Linked DNA regions of Homo sapiens: regions 2, 3 and 4 are each linked to region 1. Evidence: fine-mapped expression QTL. A gene starts in region 1. Each other region holds a variant in brackets. All regions are shown on one strand. Distances are from middle to middle.

What was found. PIP is the estimated chance that this variant, and not a neighbour inherited with it, causes the effect. A credible set is the group of variants that fine-mapping cannot tell apart.
Region 2: its variant is the best candidate, but not a certain one, in a credible set for the expression of ARFGAP3 in substantia nigra (GTEx, PIP 0.85).
Region 3: its variant is the best candidate, but not a certain one, in a credible set for the expression of ARFGAP3 in whole blood (TOPMed, PIP 0.59).
Region 4: its variant is the best candidate, but not a certain one, in a credible set for the expression of ARFGAP3 in whole blood (TOPMed, PIP 0.79).

Annotation. Positions count from the first base shown.
Region 1 is chr22:42,854,925-42,859,924 of GRCh38, reverse strand. It overlaps ARFGAP3 (ARF GTPase activating protein 3), which reads left to right and starts at 2,652. Exons shown (of 16, transcript NM_014570.5): 1 at 2,652-2,811. The coding sequence starts at 2,743. RefSeq lists a silencer at 2,377-3,126 and an enhancer at 2,649-3,493.
Region 2 is chr22:43,495,664-43,500,663 of GRCh38, reverse strand. MPPED1 (metallophosphoesterase domain containing 1) reads right to left here. Exons shown (of 7, transcript NM_001044370.2): 5 at 2,314-2,429. Among named protein-coding and RNA genes, the nearest start is that of EFCAB6-AS1, 18 kb to the left of the region's middle. The variant G/A (reference allele first, on the strand shown) is at 2,083.
Region 3 is chr22:42,977,821-42,982,820 of GRCh38, reverse strand. All of the region lies in intron 1 of PACSIN2 (protein kinase C and casein kinase substrate in neurons 2), which reads left to right. Among named protein-coding and RNA genes, the nearest start is that of PACSIN2, 35 kb to the left of the region's middle. The variant A/G (reference allele first, on the strand shown) is at 2,667.
Region 4 is chr22:42,908,901-42,913,900 of GRCh38, reverse strand. PACSIN2 (protein kinase C and casein kinase substrate in neurons 2) reads left to right here. Exons shown (of 11, transcript NM_001184970.3): 2 at 1,744-1,880. The coding sequence starts at 1,821. Among named protein-coding and RNA genes, the nearest start is that of ARFGAP3, 54 kb to the right of the region's middle. The variant T/C (reference allele first, on the strand shown) is at 2,957.

The sequences.
Region 1 (5,000 bases):
AAAAAAAAAAAAAAAAAAAAAAATTAGCCAGGCATGGTTGCGGGCGCCTATAATCCCAGCTACTCAGGAGGCTGAGGCAGGAGACTCGGCTGAACCTGGGAGGCAGAGGTTGCAGTGCGTCAGGATCACACCACTGCACTCCGGCGAGACTCCTCAAAAGAAAAAGGAGAAAAAACATTTGATTTCAAGAAATATATATATATATATATATATATATATATATATATATTTTTTTTTTTTTTTTTTGAGACAGAGTCCCGCTCTGTCGCCTAGGCTGGAGTGCAGTGGTGTGATCTCGGCTCACTGCAACCTCTGCTTCCCAGATTCAAGCGATTCTCCTGCCTCAGCCTCTGAGTAGTTGGGATTACAGGTGCCCACCACCATGCCTGGCTAATTTTTGTATTTTTAGTAGAGATGGGGTTTCACCATGTTGGTCAGGCTGGTCTCGAACTCCTGACCTCATGATCCACCCACCTCAGCTTCCCAAAGTGCTGGGATTACAGGTGTGAGGCACCGCCCCCGGCCAGAAATATATATTTTTGTATTCAATTAGAGCCAGATAACATATAGATAGAATATTATATGTTATAGTATTAGATGCTAAGTTCTATGAAGAACACTTAAGCAACCATAGTGTATAAATGGTACCTCCTACCCCTTCCTCCCCTATTCGTGTAGATACTGTCTATAATTTACTGCTTTTGTTTCCCTCTCCTCAATCTCTATGGTGGAGAATGGGCTAGACTGCACTACTCTGATAATATAACTTAGTAAGATTTCAGCTCCAAGTAGTAAATGGGACCATCATTCCCATTCCCATCAGGAAGGATAAAACTGCTCATAAACATGCCCGGTATTCTGCATAAGGCCAAACTAGTACCCGGTGGACACAAAGCACAGGTGTTATACTTCGACTCAATACAGGAAGAACTTTTAAACCATCAGAGCTACCTGCAAAAGTAATGTACTTTTCTGGAAGATAATCAATTTCCCTTTCTTGGAAAAGTTGCAGCTTTGGGTTTATAAGTTACATTGTCTGCAAGCTCCCAACTGCCACCGAGGGTCTCCAAGCAGATAGGTGGAGTGTACATTTCCTGACTTCTAACAGTAGAAAGCCTCCACCAAAGGCTCTTCAGGATATCCCTAGGAAGCTGCTCACCTGTGCTACTCAGCACTGATTCTTTAATTTCTTTGTACAGATGAATAAACCATGGTTTATTTTATTTTACTTTTTGAGACAGGGTCTTGGTCTGTCGCCCATGCTGGAGTGCAGTGGTGCGATCTTGGCTCACTGCAGCCTCGACCTCCTGGACTAAAGCGATCCTCCCACCTCAGCCTCCCAAGTAGCTAGGACTACAGGCCCATGCCAGCATGCCCGGCTAATTTTTGCATTTTTTTATAGAGACGGGGTTTCACCATATTATCCAGTCTGGTCTTGAACTCCTGAGCTCAAGTGATCCTCCCGCCTCAGCCTCCCAAAGTGCTGGGATCACAGGCATGAGCCCCTGAGACTGCAAATAAACCATGCTTTAGAGAAGGTAAGTGTCTTGACCAAGGCCACAGAGCTAGGAAGCAGCTGGCTGAACTGGGATTGAGGCCAAGGTAGTGCCTTTGATGCCAAAACCTGCTGTCCTTCCTCACTATCACCCAACCTCTTTCCAGTGGCTCCACACCCATTGTGGTGACAGAGGCACCTTCTGCTGAGTGTAAACTCTTCTGGCTGGAATTGTTTCCCAGAGGGTAGGGTGCAGCCCCGAGGGCCGGGGTTAAAAGTCAAGCTTCTCATCTGGACTCATCAGTTCTGACTGAGCACTTCTGCCTCAACCCGCACTGCCATCTCTCCATGAACGTGACACAAAAGCCCTTGGTTTCAGAAAGCCAGTTTCCGGGCAAAGAAAGCTTTCCACCCAGGGCCTGGCGTGAGCTGAGGGCAAGAATTAAAAAGAGTCGGGCGCGGCGGCTCACGTCTGTAATCCCAGCAATTTGGAAGGCCGAAGTGGGTGGATCACCTGAAGTCAGGAGTTCGAGACCAGCCTGGGCAACATGGTGAAACCCTGGTCTCTACTAAAAATACAAAAATTAGCCGGGCGTGGTGATGTACGCCTGTAATCCCACCTACTCGGGAGGCTGAGGCAGGAGAATCGCTTGAACCAGGGAGGTTGCAAGGAGCCGCAATCGCGCCATTACACTCCAGCCTGGGGGACAGAGCGAGGCTCCGTCTCAAAAAAAAAAAAAAAAAAAGGGAAGGCCACCAGCTAAGGTCCGGCGTCAAGGCACGGGCCCTCCGTCCGTCTCGTGCCGAAGGAGGGCGCGTGCGCCCCTTCCCCTGCCTCTGACCTTTCCATGGAAGCAGCCCGTTAGGCGAAATGGCGATCGACCAGGCGAAACGTTGGTGGATCCTATGGCAGCGCGCGTGGCAGGCAGCCACACCCGGGCCCGGCTTCGCCCAGCGCTAAGGGCGTGGAGCCGCGCCGCAAATGGCGCGCGAGCCTCCTGCGCACGCGCGTGCAGCGCCTGGGGTCGGGCCAGCGGCGCGGCTGAAGCGAGGGCGGGGAGGGAAAGCGAGCGGCGCCTGCGCCCCGGCGGTGGACGGGCCCGGTCGTGGGCGGGGATTGGGGCGGAGCCTGACCGTTACGCGCAGCCCCGCCCCCGCGGCCTCGTCGCTCCTGCTGAGGCGGTAGCCGCTTTTCGTCGACTCTTACCGGTTGGCTGGGCCAGCTGCGCCGCGGCTCACAGCTGACGATGGGGGACCCCAGCAAGCAGGACATCTTGACCATCTTCAAGCGCCTCCGCTCGGTGCCCACTAACAAGGTAGCGGCCGCGGGCGAGTGCGGGCCTGCCTGGCATCCCTGCGGGAACCGGCGGGAGGCCCCGCGGGCGCCAGTGCCCGTGGCTTGGGAGGCGGGGCCGGCGCGGCCTGTGACACGTCGCACTGTGGGGCCGCGGCAGCCTGGCCGGGCCGGGGCGGGCGGGGCCGGGCAGCTGAGAGGCCCGGGCGGGAGGCCGCAGCGCGGGGGTCCTCACGCGAGCCGGGGAGCGTTCCCGGGGGCGGCGGCGCGGGCACACCCCCCGGCGAGCTCTTGGGGCGGGGGGCGAGCACCGGCGGCTCTGAGCGGAGGCGGGGGCGGGGGCATCCTCGGGGGCGCTGCGAGGAGGGAGCTCCCGGCTCGGAAACCCCGGCTGCTGGCGCCGGATGCGGGGAAAGCGCGGCTCCCCCAGCGCCACCCTGGAGCTCGACCCCGCCTGTTGGAGCCGGCTTGGCTCCTCGGGCCTTGCGGTGCCTGCCTCAGTTTCTCTTCTGATAAAGTTGCCGAGTAGTCTACGCTTTGGCTTCCAGCTTTTGTCGCTTTGGCCAGGGAGGCTCACCACAGCCTCCTCCCTCTCCTCGGTTCTCTTTGGAGATGGAGGTTTCCTTTTTTTTTTTGTCTCCAGAGGCTGTTCTCTCCCTGGAACTTTTACAGCTTTGCGCAGCTGGCTGGAGGCGTTGGGGTGACGCAGGGGGCTAAGGTGACACGTCGGGTCGGAGAGGGACTTGGAGAGTGCAAAGGGCTGTCGCGTCAGCGTGGGCTCTCCCCGCCCCTCCTGTGACACGAGTGTTGTCTGGTTCCCACTGTCACTTCCCGAAGGGAACAGCTGTTATTGAACCTCGATATGCTGGCATAGAAAGTTCCCGAGTGTTACAAAATAGGTGTTTCTGTTGGTTTTAAGTCTTGATGGTACAGGGGAGCCCATATTTTTTCCAGCCTAGGTGAGGAAGGAAACAGTTTATTGGAGGTGATGTCTGATGGATGTGGGAAAGTTAAGAGAAAGGCTCCAGGAATTCTCCAGTGCCCGTTTCTTTACTGTTCTCTTGATTTTCACATTTTTATTTATTTATTTTTTTAGAGACAGGGTCTCACCCCGTCACCCAGGCTGAAGTGTAGTGCCTTGATCCTAGCTCACTGCAGCCTTGACCTACCCAGCCCAAGCCATCCTTCCTTCCCAGCCTCCTGATGAGGCTGACACCACAGGGCTGTACCACCACGCCCAGCTAATTGTTATTATTAATTAATTAATTAATTAATTTTTGTAGAGACAGGGTCTTGCTATGTTGCCCGTGCTGGTGTCAAATTCCTGGGCTCAAGCAGTCCTCCTGCCTCCTCCTGCCTTGGCCTCCCAGAGTGCTAGGATTACAGGCATGAGCCACCATGCTGGCCTTAATGTTCTTTTTTTTTTTTTTAACGTTTTAATTTTAATTTTTTTGAGACAGAGCCTTGCTCTGTCGCCCAGGCTGGAGTGCAGTGGTGCGATCTCAGCTCACTGCAACCTCTGCCTCCTGGGTTTGAGCAATTCTGCCTCAGCCTCCTGAGTCGCCAGGATTACAGGCATCCACCACTACACTCAAGTAATTTTTATATTTTTAGTAGAGACGAGGTTTCACCATGTCAGTCACTCTGGTCTCAAACTCCTGGCCTCAAGTGATCCACCCGCCTCGGCCTCCTGAAGTGCTGGGATTACAGGCGTGAGCCACCGCGCCCAGCCTTGATTTTTAAATTTAGATTGATGTGTTTATAAAGAGTGGGTCCTGTGTAACTTAGTCAAGATTAGGATCTGCGGTTAGCAATGTGTAAACTATATTTTTTTGTCACCTTTATCTCAGAAACATCAACATGTATTCTCTTTGATTTAATTCAAAGATAATTTTAAATTAGAAATCAATGTCTTTATATCAAGAGGCTTTTGAGAGACAGGCTTGTATTGTCCAAACTGCTACTTTCTAGGTATGTCACCCTTGGACAGGTTACTTGACCACTTTGTCCCTTTTTTCCTCCTCTGAAAATGGGGCATGAACTAGACCTGACTCAGAGGGTTATTGTGAAGATTAAATGGAATAATCCAAGAAAAACACTTAGAGTAGGAACTGCATATAATAGTCTTCAATAAATGGCAGCTGTTTTTATGATGAAGAACACACCTGTGAAAAATTTATATTCTGTAATAAGATTAATAAAAGCAATGAG
Region 2 (5,000 bases), 640 kb before region 1:
ATGGTGGGTTTCTGGAGGTGGCGGTGGGAGCAAGACACTGATATGGGCCGAACTGCTGGGAGACTGAACTTCATTCAGAGGACTGAGGGAACCACAGAGGGTCACAGAGGGGTGGCATGGCACACATAAGGATACAGAAAACTCCCTCCTGCTGATGTAAAGCGAGTGGACTGGAAGGGGCAAGACCTTCGCCTCCACCACCTCCACCACCTCCGTCACCACCTCCACCACCACCTCCATTACCACCTCCATCACCACCACTACCACCTCCATCACCATCACCACCACCACCCCCATCACCACCTCCATCACCATCACCACCACCACCTCCACCACCACCATCACCACCTCCATCACCATCACCACCACCACCCCCATCACCACCGCCACCTCCATCACCATCACCACCATCATCACTGCCACCTCCATCACCACCTCCACCATCACCCCCACCACCTCCATTACCACCTCCATCACCATCACCACCACCTCCATCACCATCACCACCACCACCCCCACCACCTCCATTACCACCTCCATCACCACCTTCATCACCCCCACTACCACCTCCATCGCCATCACCACCACCTCCATCACCATCACCACCACCACCCCCATCACCACCTCCCTCACCACCACCACCACCTCCACCATCACCACCGCCACCTCCATCACCATCACCACCACCACCCCCATCACCACCTCCATCACCACCACCACCACCACCTCCACCATCACCACCACCACCTCCATCACCATCACCACCACCACCCCCATCACCACCTCCATCACCACCACCACCACCTCCACCATCACCACCACCACCTCCATCACCATCACCACCACCACCCCCATCACCACCTCCATCACCACCACCACCACCTCCACCATCACCACCGCCACCTCCATCACCATCACCACCACCACCCCCATCACCACCTCCATCACCACCACCATCATCACCTCCACCACCACCATCACCACCATCACCCCCATCACCGCCACCCCCATCACCACCACCACCACCTCCACCATCATCACCACCACCATCACCACCACCACCACCTCCACTACCACCACCACCTCCACTACCACCACCACCACCTCCACCACCACCCACCATCACCACCACCTCCATCACCACCACCATCACCTCCATTACCACCATCACCACCCCCATAACCACCACCACCACCTCCATCACCATCACTACCTCCCACCACCACCACCTCCCACATCACCACCACTTCTATCACCACCACCATCACATCCATCACCACCCCCATCACCATCACCACCACCTCCATCACCATCACTACCTCCCACCACCACCACCTCCCACGTCACCACTTCTATCACCACCACCATCACATCCATCACCACCCCCATCACCATCACCACCACCTCCATCACCACCACCACCCCATCCCCACTGCCACTACCTCTATGACTATCACCACCTCCCACCACCACCACCACCATCTCCACCTCCCACCATCACCTCCGTCACCACCATCACCTTCATCACCACCACCTTCATCACCTCCACCACCATCACCACCTCCACCACCACCACCTCCACCATCACCACCTCCATCACCACTACCTCCATCACCACCACCTCCACCATGACCATGGGAGAGAGAGAGAAGACATTGTCCTGGACTGAGGCAGGGTCAGCAGCTTGAAGAGAAGGGGGAGTGGGAGGCAGTTTGGAGGTGGAATGGGAGGGATGTGGTGATGGCCAGGCTGTGGGAATGAGGAAAGGAAGGGAACTGAGAGAGCCCCCAGATGGGACAGTAGGGGTGGAGGAGGCAGTATGCAGATGAGGGGATGACCTCAGTGTGGATTGGGTGGTGGGGTGGGGGCAGAGAGGAGAGATGGGAGGTGGTCTACAGGCCCTGGGGATGTTGGGCTGGGTGGGGGTGAGGAAGTGGGGACCCCAGGTTTCTGAGGGAGTTAGGGCTGCCCGGAGGAAGCCCTGTGCAGGGCTCTGGTGATTTTCAGCACCCGGGACTGGGGTCTGCAGAGGCATAAGCCGAAGCTCCAGGGTCCCACCTGTCAAATGGGCAGGTGATTCTG[G/A]CCTCCTGTGCTGTTGTGAGGAGCCCACAAGATAACAAGTCAAGCCCCCTGCTCTCAGTGGGCACTCAGGAAATAAGAGGGACCATGGGGCGACGTGTCCTCAGTGCCCCAGCAAGTGGGACTCAGAACCCCTCCAGGGCTCCCCTATACAGGCCCAGCCAGCCCCCCATCCCAGAGCCCACCCACCAGCCCAGATGGGCGAGCTGGAGGGCCAGGCCAGCAGAGCCTTACCCAGTGGTGGTCCATGGGTTATCAGGATGTCTACGCCTTCGGGAATGAGGTTCCATTTCTCCAGCAGGGCTTGGCCTCGCGGGAGGTTGAAGCCCCAGCCGTAGAACCAGGGCTGCCTGTAGAAGAAGTGCAGGTGTTTGAGGGAGGGCGGGTGAAAGTACAGGGTGGTCAGAGGGAATGCGGAGCTCCCCACGGGCCAGGGGGCCCTCAGGACCAGCTCGCTACCTGGAGACCCAGGGAAGGTCTCCACCTAGGGAAGGCAGGGACTCACCAGGACTTTGACCCACTGGCGGTCTGTGGGTCCCCAGGCAATTCTCTTTCCTCTCTCCTTCTGCTTACCTGCAGTTTCTGTTTTTCTGTAAGTATTATTTACATAACCAAAAAAAAAAGAAAGCTAAATACATATATATATATACATATACATATATATATCAGCTTCTTCCTAAGACCTTTCCTGCTCCAAGCCTTTCTAAGAAAATCCACAGGGAACATTATACATTCTCCAATACTCCCACCCCCACCCCCAGGAAGATGCCCCTCCATCCTCCCTCCCCCAGGTGGGGTGTGTGGACCCCCAGTCAAAAGAGAGCAGATTCCAGGTGCGGGCTGCTCATTCTTGCTTATACTGGAAGCTCTGGCCAGGGAGTCCAGGTAGAGTTGAGCCCATCCCCAGCTGGGAGGGTGGGGCCAGGTGGACCTAGACCATTATACGCAATCCCAGCCTGGTAGCCTGCTCCCCAGCCAAGACCTGGACCCATCAATGCCAGATATTCCCCCTAGTCAGTTCAGTGGTGAACACATCACCTAGATCCTTCCAATTGCAGGCAGTCTCTTTTCAAGAAGAAAAGTGGATACTATCATCCCTGTGTATAAACAGTGAGCTTCTAGCCTTGGGAGCTGTGGGCAGCTGTCGGCAGCTGTTAAGTTACCCAAGAAACAGCTGGATCAAACTGGACCAGACACCCACCCTACCTCAGCACTTCCCAATTATACGGGCCAACACAAAGCCATTTGAACTGGGTTTTCAGTCATTTGCAACAAAAGCATCAGAATCATCCCGTAGGTTTCACCCATACATGATTCCACAAGAATGGGCCCTTTATGTCAATAAAGTAACCAGCATCACCACCTCCAACACCGCCACCTCCACCATCACTAGCACTTCTACCATCAACAGCACTTCCACCACCACCTCCATTACTAGTACCTCCTCCACCACCACCACGTCCATCACCACCTCCATCACCACCATCTCCGCCACCACTACCTCCACCACCACCTCCACCACCACCATCTCCACCACCACTACCTCCACCACCACCACTTCCACCACCACTACCTCCACCACCACCACCTCCACCACCACTACCTCCACCACCACTACCTCCACCACCACCACCTCCACCACCACTACCTCCACCACCACCACCTCCACCACCACCACCTCCACCACCACCACCTCCACCACCACCATCTCCACCACCACTACCTCCACCACCACTACCACCACCACCACCTCCACCACCACCACCTCCACCACCACCACCTCCGCCACCACCACCTCCACCACCACCTCCACCACCACCATCACCACCACCACTACCTCCACCACCACCACTTCCACCACCACTACCACCACCACCACCACCACCACCACCACCACCACCACCATCTCCACCACCACTACCTCCACCACCACCACCTCCACCACCACCATCTCCACCACCATCTCCACCACCACTACCTCCACCACCACCATCTCCACCACCACCACCACCATCTCCACCACCACTATCTCCACCACCACCATCTCCACCACCACCATCTCCACCACCATCTCCACCACCACTACCTCCACCACCACCATCTCCACCACCACCACCACCATCTCCACCACCACTACCTCCACCACCACCACCTCCACCACCACCACCTCCATCACCACCTCCACCACCACCATCTCCACCACCACTACCTCCACCACCACCACCTCCACCACCACCACCTCCATCACCACCTCCATCACCACCATCTCCGCCACCACTACCTCCACCACCACCTCCACCACCACCATCTCCACCACCACTACCTCCACCACCACCTCCACCACCACCTCCACCACCACCATCTCCACCACCACTACCTCCACCACCACTACCTCCACCACCACCTCCACCATCACCACCTCCACCACCACCACCTCCACCATCACCACCTCCACCACCACCACCTCCACCACCACCATCTCCACCACCACTACCTCCACCACCACTACCTCCACCACCACCTCCACCATCACCACCTCCACCACCACCACCTCCACCATCACCACCTCCACCACCACCATCTCCACCACCACCACCATCTCCACCACCACCATCTCCACCACCACCACCTCCACCACCACTACCTCCACCATCACCTCCACCACCACTACCTCCACCACCACCATCTCCACCACCACTACCTCCACCACCACCATCTCCACCACCACCACCACCATCTCCACCACCACTACCTCCACCACCACCACCTCCACCACCACCACCTCCATCACCACCTCCACCACCACCATCTCCACCACCACCACCACCATCTCCACCACCACTACCTCCACCACCACCACCTCCACCACCACCACCTCCATCACCACCTCCACCACCACCATCTCCACCACCACCACCTCC
Region 3 (5,000 bases), 120 kb before region 1:
AGGACAATAGTGGAGGGAAGGTCAGCAGATAAACAAGTGAACAAAGGTCTCTGGTTTTCCTAGGCAGAGGACCCTGCAGCCTTCCGCAGTGTTTGTGTCCCTGGGTACTTAAGATTAGGGAGTGGTGATGACTCTTAACGAGCATGCTGCCTTCAAGCATCTGTTTAACAAAGCACATCTTGCACCGCCCTTAATCCATTTAACCCTGAGTGACACAGCACATGTTTCAGAGAGCACAGGGTTGGGGATAAGGTCACAGATCAACAGATCCCAAGGCAGAAGAATTTTTCTTAGTACAGAACAAAATGAAAAGTCTCCCATGTCTACTTCTATCCACACAGACCCGGCAACCATCCGATTTCTCAATTTTTTCCCCACCCTTCCCGCCTTTCTATTCCACAAAACCGCCATTGTCATCATGGCCCATCCCCAATGAGCCGCTGGGCACACCTCCCAGACGGGGTCGTGGCCGGGCAGAGGGGCTCCTCACTTCCCAGTAGGGGCGGCCGGGCAGAAGCGCCCCTCACCTCCCGGATGGGGCGGCTGGCCGGGCGGGGGGCTGACCCCCCCACCACCCTCCCGGACGGGGCGGCTGGCCAGGCAGAGGGGCTCCTCACTTCCCAGTAGGGGCGGCCGGGCAGAGGCGCCCCTCACCTCCTGGATAGGGCGGCTGGCCGGGCGGGGGGCTGTCCCCCCACCTCCCTCCCGGACGGGGCGGCTGGCCGGGCAGAGGGGTCCTCACTTCCCAGTAGGGGCGGCCGGGCAGAGGCGCCCCTCACCTCCCGGACGGGGCGGCCGGCCGGAAGGGGGGCTGACCCCCCCACCTCCCTCCCGGACGGGGCGGCTGGCCGGGCAGAGGGGCTCCTCACTTCCCAGTAGGGGCGGCCGGGCAGAGGCGCCCCTCACCTCCCGGACGGGGCGGCTGGCCAGGCGGGGGGCTGATCCCCCCACCTCCCTCCCGGACGGGGCGGCTGGCCGGGCGGGGGGCTGACCCCCCACCTCCCTCCCGGACTGGGCGGCTGGCCGGGCGGGGGGCTGACCCACCCACCTCCCTCCTGGACGGGGCGACTGGCCGGGCAGAGGGGCTCCTCACTTCCCAGTAGGGGCGGCCGGGCAGAGGAGCCCCTCACCTCCCGGACGGGGCGGCTGGCCGGGCGGGGGGCTGACCCCCCCACCTCCCTCCCGGACGGGGCGGCTGGCCGGGCAGAGGGGTCCTCACTTCCCAGTAGGGGCAGCCGGGCAGAGGCGCCCCTCACCTCCCGGACGGGGCGGCCGGCCGGGCGGGGGGCTGACCCCCCCACCTCCCTCCCGGACGGGGCGGCTGGCCGACCCCCCCCGCCGCCTCCCTCCCGGACGGGGCGGCTGGCCGGGCAGAGGGGCTCCTCACTTCCCAGTAGGGGCGGCCGGGCAGAGGCGCCCCTCACCTCCCGGACGGGGCGGCTGGTCGGGCGGGGGGCTGACCCCCCCCACCTCCCTCCCGGACGGGGTGGCTGCCGGGCGGAGACGCTCCTCACTTCCCAGACGGGGTGGTTGCCGGACGGAGGGGCTCCTCACTTCTCAGACGGGGCGGTTGCCAGGCAGAGGGTTTCCTCACTTCTCAGACGGAGCGGCCGGGCAGAGACGCTCCTCACCTCCCAGACAGGGTTGCGGCCCAGCAGAGGCGCTCCTCACATCCCAGACAGGGCGGTGGGGCAGAGGTGCTCCCCACATCTCAGACGATGGGCGGCCGGGCAGAGACGTTCCTCACTTCCTAGATGGGATGGCGGCGGGGAAGAGGCGCTCCTCGCTTCCTAGATGGGATGGCGGCCGGGCAGAGACGCTCCTCACTTTCCAGACTGGGCAGCCAGGCAGAGGGGCTCCTCATATCCCAGACGATGGGTGGCCAAGCAGAGACGCTCCTCACTTCCCAGACGGGGTGGCGGCCGGGCAGAGGCTGCAATCTCGGCTCTTTGGGAGGCCAAGGCAGGCGGCTGGGAGGTGGTTGTAGCGAGCCGAGATCACGCCACTGCACTCCAGCCTGGGCACCATTGAGCACTGAGTGAACGAGACTCCATCTGCAATCCCGGCACCTCGGGAGGCCGAGGCTGGCGGATCACTCGCGGTTAGGAGCTGGAGACCAGCCCGGCCAACACAGCGAAACCCCGTCTCCACCAAAAAAAAACGAAAACCAGTCAGGCGTGGCGGCGCGCGCCTGCAATCGCAGGCACTCGGCAGGCTGAGGCAGGAGAATCAGGCAGGGAGGTTGCAGTGAGCCGAGATGGCAGCAGTACCGTCCAGCTTTGGCTCGGCATCAGAGGGAGACCGTGGAGGGAGAGGGAGAGGGGGAGGGGGAGGGGGAGAGGGAGAGGGAGAGGGTTGTTTGTTTTTTTGAGGGAGGGTCTCTCTCTGTCGCCCAGGCTGGAGTGTCGTGGTGTGATCATGCAGCCTTGACCTCCTAATGACCATGACAAGCTAGTGTTTTTGATTTTTAGTAGAGACAAGGTCCTGCCATGTTGTTCAGGCTGTTCTTGAACTCTTGGGCTCAAGCAGTCCTCATGCCTTGGCCTCTCAAAGTGCTGGGATTATAGGCATGAGCTACTGTGTGTGGCCATTAATTAATTTAATTAATTTTCTTAATGACAATTGAGAACTTAGAAGCAACATGAATGTGGAATTATAGATTTTAC[A/G]AATTTTCACCCAATACTCTATACTTGTTTTGCCATACCTATAATTTAGTTAGCAGATTGTTTCTTTCTTTCTTTTTTTTTTAATTAACAACTTGTTTTAATAGAAACTTGTTTTAATAGTTTTAATGGAAACAATGATGCGCTTATTTCATAGGTTTATATAGTTAAGCATGTATGTGTATTTATACTATATGTGTATTGTATGTATGTGCGTATGTGTAATAAATGTGTGTATGTAAATTTACAATGACAAGTACAGTTGGCATAAGCAGGGGTTTGCAGACAAACGTGTTTCAGCACACTGGGCAACATATCAGTCTGTAGCATGTGGTCAGGATGCAAGGGGGATCCGTTAATCCATTAATAACTTAGGGATTTTGTCCTCAGGAATCTCCCAGCCTAGAGGAGGCAATGTCTGTGTTTAAATAACTATAACCCAAGTTAGAAAGCGGCAGGTGCCTTAAGACAGAGCATATACTCCCAGGAGGAAGGAGCCAGAGAATTCATAGAGAAGGAGGTATCTGACCTGGGCCAATTACTTCTTTCTTTGTTTTTTGACTGTTTTTATATTTAGTTAAATATCTGTATATTTCTTTTTTCTTTTCTTTCCTTTTTTTTTTTTTTTTTTTTTGAGAGGGAGTCTTGCTTTGTTGCCTAGGCTGGAGTGCAGTGGCATGATCTCGGCTCACTGCAACCTCCACCTCCCATGTTCAAGTGATTCCCATGCCTCAGCCTTTGGAGTAGCTGGGATTACAGACGCCTGCTACCACGCTTGGCTAATTTTTGTATTTTTAGTAGAGATGGGGTTTCACCATGTTGACCAGGCTGGTCTCAAACTCCCGATCTTAGGTGATCCACCTGCCTCTGCCTCCCAAAGTGCTGAGATTGCAGGCATGAGCCACCGCACCTGGCCAAATATCTCTATATTTCTGTAAATCTATAAATAAAAACACAAACAGATGAACCATCATTGGGCCTTGGGCAGTGGTATGGACATTTGAATTGTTTTTGAAGTTTCTATGTCTCAGCCAGTACAGGTGCTGGCTGTTTCTCCTAGGCAATGGAGCTTTGTAGTACCCCTGTTGTCTGTGCTATACTGCAGGGGGATTGGTCAACAGGATGCATTCCTTTCTGTCACAGTTCATTATACTGGTCAGAGTTCTGAGGTCACCAGCTAACCTGAGCATAATCAGTTCCTTGGAAGACATTGGGTGGAGTGACCTCATAGACTCATAGGAAACCTGAAAAGAAGCCAGGGGAGAAACAATTGTTTTGAAGGAGTAGGGAGATTTCCCAAAGCCCAGCTGGAATGCTGTTGCCAGGAGGAGGAACCAGTTAAGGGGCAGGGACCAGCCTTTTTGGAAATGCTTTGTAGAATGCCCTAGGGAAGAGGAAATACATAAACCAAGGGCCAGGATGCAAACATACTTTTGAATATGTCTCAGATCTGAGTCCACCTGAACGTCTGCAGGCCAAAAAGCATAGCACATCATTCATAGGAACTCCAGAAATGTTGCCCGACTGCCTCCCACAACTTACCGTCAGTGCGGGCATGGAAACCTTCCTGCTTTCTGCTCTGTGTGGGTGGGTGAATGTGAGTGAGGAGAAACACTGTCATCTGGGAGTGAAGAGCCCAGCTTTGCAGTCATTCAGCAGGATGAGGGTGGACTTTTGGCTCTGCCACCAACGCAGTGTGGGCCCTGTGCTCTTCTTGTGTTGCGTGTAAACGAAGACTGATATTTTCTGTTAGATTTCTCAGCGTTATAGGTTATTGGATTTGTTACTGTGTGCTCATGCCAAGAGAAACAGAAGATGTATAAACAGCTAGGTGGTAATCAACTGTTGACTGCTTGTTGTAGCAGAGCCTTCCACAACTTTCTCCTGACCCTCACAAATGCATGTTTTAAAAAAAGAGAGGGACCTATTGTAGGCATTATTCAGCAACTTGTTATTTTCACTTCTCTTGAGCTTACACACCCCTGAATTTAAGCTCTTTTGATAACAAATAATTGAAAAAAGTGCATGGCAGGTTGTAGGTGCTCATTGTGGGATGAATGAATGAATGAGCCAGTGAGTGAGTGTTGTACTCTGGATCTCTCTCCAGGTCAGTAGTTTTTAGTAGTTATGTCACACTGAATTGCTCTAGTCTTTTTCAGACTTGTACTAGCAATGTATGAGTACCCCTGTATTAGTTCGTTCTCACATTGCTATAAAGAACCACCTGAGACTGGGTGATTTATGAAGAAAAGAGGTTTAATTGACTCAGTTTCACAGGCTTAGCAGGAAGCATGGCTAGGAGGCCTCAGGAAACTACAATCATGGTGGAAGGGGAAG
Region 4 (5,000 bases), 54 kb before region 1:
TTTAGGTTGTAGGAAGCCTGATTTACTTAACTTTGAGATTGTTTTTGGAAAACATCTTGGTGTAATGGAGAGAATATTACCTTAGCAAGCAGGCAGAGCTGGTGTCAAATACTAGTCTCCACCAGCCATTACTTGGACAACCGTGGGCAAATTACTGAACATCAATTGTCTTGACTTTAAAATAGAGACAGAAGTAATGATAGTAATCATAATTACTATGCAATAATAATAGTGGCAACAATAATTCATTATTTACTATGTTCGTAGCACTTACTAAGGGTGTATAACAGTACTTAGTAAGTTCGTAGCACTTACTAAGGGCCAAGTATTGTTCTAAGCTCTTGTATATATTTGACTTGCAGCAATTCTGTGTTGTAGGTTCCATTAGTGTCTCTCTTTTTTTTTTTTTTTTTTTTTTTTGGAGACGGAGTTTCGCTCTTGTTGCCCAGGCTGGAGTGCAATGGCACGATCTTGGCTGACCGCAACCTCCACCTCCCAGGTTCAAGCGATTCTCCTGCCTCAGCCTCCTGAGTAGCTGGGATTATAGGCACATGCCACCACGCTTGGCTAATTTTGTATTTTTAGTAGAGACGGGGTTTCTCCGTCTTGGTCAGGCTGGTCTTGAACTCCTGACCTCAGGTGATCCGCCCGCCTTGGCCTCCCAAAGTGCTGGGATTACAGGCATGAGCCACTGTGCCCGGCCTATTGTCTCTTTTTTCCAGATAAGGCAAGCGAGGCACAGAGAGGGTAGGTAACTTGCCCACTGTTGCCCACCTCATAAGTAATGGGTCTGGGATTTAAGCCTAGGTAGTCTGACTCTGGAGTCTGTGTTTCTTGCTCCAATTCCAGGCTGTGTCACAGAGAATCATGAAGATTCATGTGATTACATATGAAACAGGACCTAGAACAAAGTCTTGTGCCTTGTTGGTGCTCAAAACAAGTTGGCCATTCTGTCTCACCCCTTCCTGTTGCTAAGCTAAGGCTTTAGACTGTTGACTGTGGCAGTGAGGAAGGTCTTGGATCTCTGGCTGTGTGATCTGAACACAGGGTAAGGTAAAGAAAGGTGGGGTCACCTTTTTACCAAAAAGTCAGACAGTTTCATCTCGGCTGCGGACAGGTCATCACACTAGCAAGGTGTGGTTTGTGCTTATGGGAGTCCTTCAGTTTCTTCCCTCCAACAGGGGAAATAATTGCCGCCTTTACCCTTGCCTGGATTGTAGATTGCTGAGTCTGTTATTCAGAAGTGATCCATTTAGCTTTCCAGCTGAGCCACACACAGACAGTGTCAGAACAAACTGGTCTGAATTTGTGGCTTCAGTGGCGGAGTCAGTAAAGGTGGAGTTGAGTGGGGACAGTGCTCACACAAGTGGAATGTGGTAGCCACTCTGGAGAGGGGAGTAGGGTGTCAAAGGTGGGATTACCTCCACTCACGTTTTATCCCGGGTCCTAGCCCTACCAGTTAGGTAGAGTAGGTCGGGATGGGCAAGCCCAGAGATCCAAGGACTCTGCCTTTTATGCACATGCACCCCTCGCCCCCATCACCCACCATGCACACACACAGACATACACATATGTGCCCAGAGTTGATTAGAGTCTACTGGCTTTCTGCCACCTAAAGGAAATATTATAGACCGCCCTGTACTGAAGGCAGTGATTAGAAACGGGAAGTTGTGAAATAGAGATGACTTGTTTCTTTACCTTGGGAATTTAAAAACCACTATGTTATATGTTTTTCATTTATAGGTTTGTCTACAGATTTTGAGCGTTCGAAGTTGACCCCTGACTAAGTATACTTTGCTGCTCCCTCAGCCTTTGAAAAAATGTCTGTCACATATGATGATTCCGTTGGAGTAGAAGTGTCCAGCGACAGCTTCTGGGAGGTAATGCACCTGCTTTCTTCCAGTGAATGAAGTGGCCAGGCCAATAGTGTCTGGCAGGCCCTTTGGTTTTTTTGGTGGAGGTTGGGAACTGAGGTGAACATACCCCCAAACCAGCCATGCATTTGTAGTCAGACCTAGATAGCAGCAGAAAAGGTTTGGACACTTGTTTTTAGGCAGTTCAGGTATGCCTTAGCCATCATCGAAGGCAGTGAACTTACCTTGCTAGGAAAGGCTGATACTTAAAGAGGTTAGGGGTGTTTATGAAAGGTCTTGGGGATCACCTTCCTTTTTATGTTTGCCATGGTGTGAGTGGGAGAGACAGACACTAATTGCTCAGCTTATCCTACGAGGCACTTTACTGTTGAGTTTTATGTAGAAACAAGGAGGGCTGTGATTTGACATCATGCTGGACAACACAGGCAAGTGGCCAGAGGGCCAAATGCCTTCAAACTTGCTGGAGCATCTGCCGCCAGTCTGTACCCATGAGTGGCCCTCTTCCTGATTGGATTATTTTTGTTTTTTTGTGGAGGCGGAGGGTGTTGTTCCTGAGTCCCACTTACTTTTCCTTCCTGCTAGTTAATGGAAAGTCCATCTTTTTTTTTTTTTTTTTTTTAACAGTTGAGGTCTCGAGAGCGCAGGCTGGAGTTCAGTGGCACCATCATGGCTCACTGAAGCCTTGATCTCCTGGGCTCAAGCCATCCTCCCACCTCAGCCTACTGAGTAGCTGAGACTATAGGAAGTCAATTTTTGGTCTAATTTTGTCCCTGTGGCAAAACCCCTGGAGCTTTCTTGGCCTTCATGGAAAGAGGCTTTGCATGGCCGGGCGCAGTGGCTCATGTCTGTAACCCCAGCACTTTGGGAGGCCGAGGCGGGTGGATCTTGAGGTCAGGAGTTCAAGACCAGCCTGGCCAACATGGTGAAACCCCATCTCTACTAAAAATACAAAAAATTAGCTGGGCGTGGTGGTGGGCACCTGTAACCCCAGCTATTTGGGAGGCTGAGGCAGGAGAATGGCATGAACCCGGGAGGCGGAGCTTGCAGTGAGCCGAGACAGCGCCACTGCACTCCAGCCTGGG[T/C]GACAGAGCAAGACTCCGTCTCAAAAAAAAAAAAATTATGTGTTAACTGAGTACCTGTAGTGTGCTAGGCAAGGGATGTGACAGACTGAGTTCCTGCCCTCCAGAAGCTGGCTTCTGCCACAGCAGAAATAAATGTGGAAAGGCACAGAGCATGCAGGTCCTCTCTGCTGCCACCCCTCGGCTGGTGGCATCCTTCTGGAGGGGTGAGGGGGGCACCCAGCTCAAATTTCAGCAGCCGGAGAGGCACATCTGCCTGAGAAATATTTCACTTAAGACAGCAAGAGTGACAGGAGCAGTGACAGCCAAACAGGTCGCCAGCCACATCTCACAGCATGGCAGGAGGTTGGCCGTGAAACTAGATGAAGCAGGACCAGCAGTTACACGACGTGGTTTGGAGGTGCCCCTGGAATAGTGCTAGAATTCAGGACTGCCTTTGCCCCCGCTTGCAGGTACAGGTTCACAGTAATCAGGTCCCGCTGGCTGGCCCCCCCAGAGAGGCTGTGGCCTCATTAGTGCAGGAGCGCTTATGGAGCTGGCAGCAGCTGTGAGAGCCTTCCTGTGAGCTCTCCAGCCTTTAGAAGTGCAGGCCCTTGTTCTCAACACTGAACCAAAACTATAGATAGAAACCTTTCCAGTTATGGGGAGCCTCTTTTTTGTAACTGTAGTGACATTGCTGGCTGGCACCAATCATTCCCTGCCTTGAGCTTGGTGGTGGTGCAGACAGGACAAGCACACTCAAAAGGCCCTTCCTTGTGAGGGATAGGCCAGGAGAGGCAATGGGGACAGGTGAAGACATTGCTTTGGAGCCAGGAGGTCTGGGTTTGACTGCTGACCTGATCACTTACTTCTGTGTATGGCTTTGGGCAAGTTACTGATTTTTCTTTGCCTTCATTTCCCAATCTATAAGATGGGGGTAATAACGGTACCCATATCCTAGTATTGTGAGGGTTAAAAGAATGAATAAACGTTAAGTGTTTTAGGGCATCAGGGCAAGGCTGGTGGGGGCCCTTCCCTCTGACACGGGAGCTGAGGGAGTCGGTGTGCACAGTCAATGTCTGTTCCTGCGGTGCCCTTGGCGACATTGTCTTCATTACCCACTTGGTGGCAGAAACTGCTGGGAAAATTATGTAGCTAAATATAGTGCTATTACAGAATTCTTCAGCTGCTTGTTAAAAAACATTCAGGTGAACGTTGCCAGTGTATATTGTCAGCATATATTAAATCAACTAGCTTTAACAAGTCCAGTAATTAAGCTCTTATGCTCCCTGTTAAATTCTCAACTGCAATAATGTCAGTAGACAAGAACATCTCCTTTTGCCTGAAAATGCTCAGGCGGGCTCTGCTCAGCTTGTGATGCTGTCCCTGAAATTACTCTCCAGCTGGTATCAACTCCGCAGTGCTGTGGTCGTCCGCCTTCTCCATGACGGATGTTCGTTGAGTGGCGGAGTGACTGCTCAGTGATGGCCTGCTGGGATCTGAGAGACTCAGGTGCACACTGCCAACTGCACATCTTCCCAGGCAGGTAGCAAGTTCCTCTTTCCCATGGAAGGACACTTTTCCAAAGAAAGCCTTGTGGTCTTGAGGTGGAAAAGTTTTTTGTGTTTAATTTTACTCCTTCCCACCAAAAGATACTAACTGGAATATGTCATTCCAGAGCCATCTTCTGTGTGGCCCTGTCCTCCAGGAGCCTTTGGCTGTGACATTTGGAGGAATAAGGTAGACACTAGGCAGGTCATCATGCCAGGTGCCGTAGGATTTGCTAGGTTTGCCCAGGGGGAAGGGCAGGAAAGGCAGCATGGGGTAGTGGACGTTGCTGCACTTGGATGCTTGCTGGACGAATGAAGGAACCCATACTGACCTGTGGGAGGAGAGGTTACCCACAGGGACATGATACTGAATAGAGCTATTTAATGCATATTCGGAAGGAGTACCTCCTGCATTCCCCCAACCCTGTAGATATAGGGGAAAAATAAAAAGAGGAAGAGGGGAGAGGGGATCCAGTTCCCACAAAGAAGATGCTTATGGAGTATGAGAGCAGGAGGGA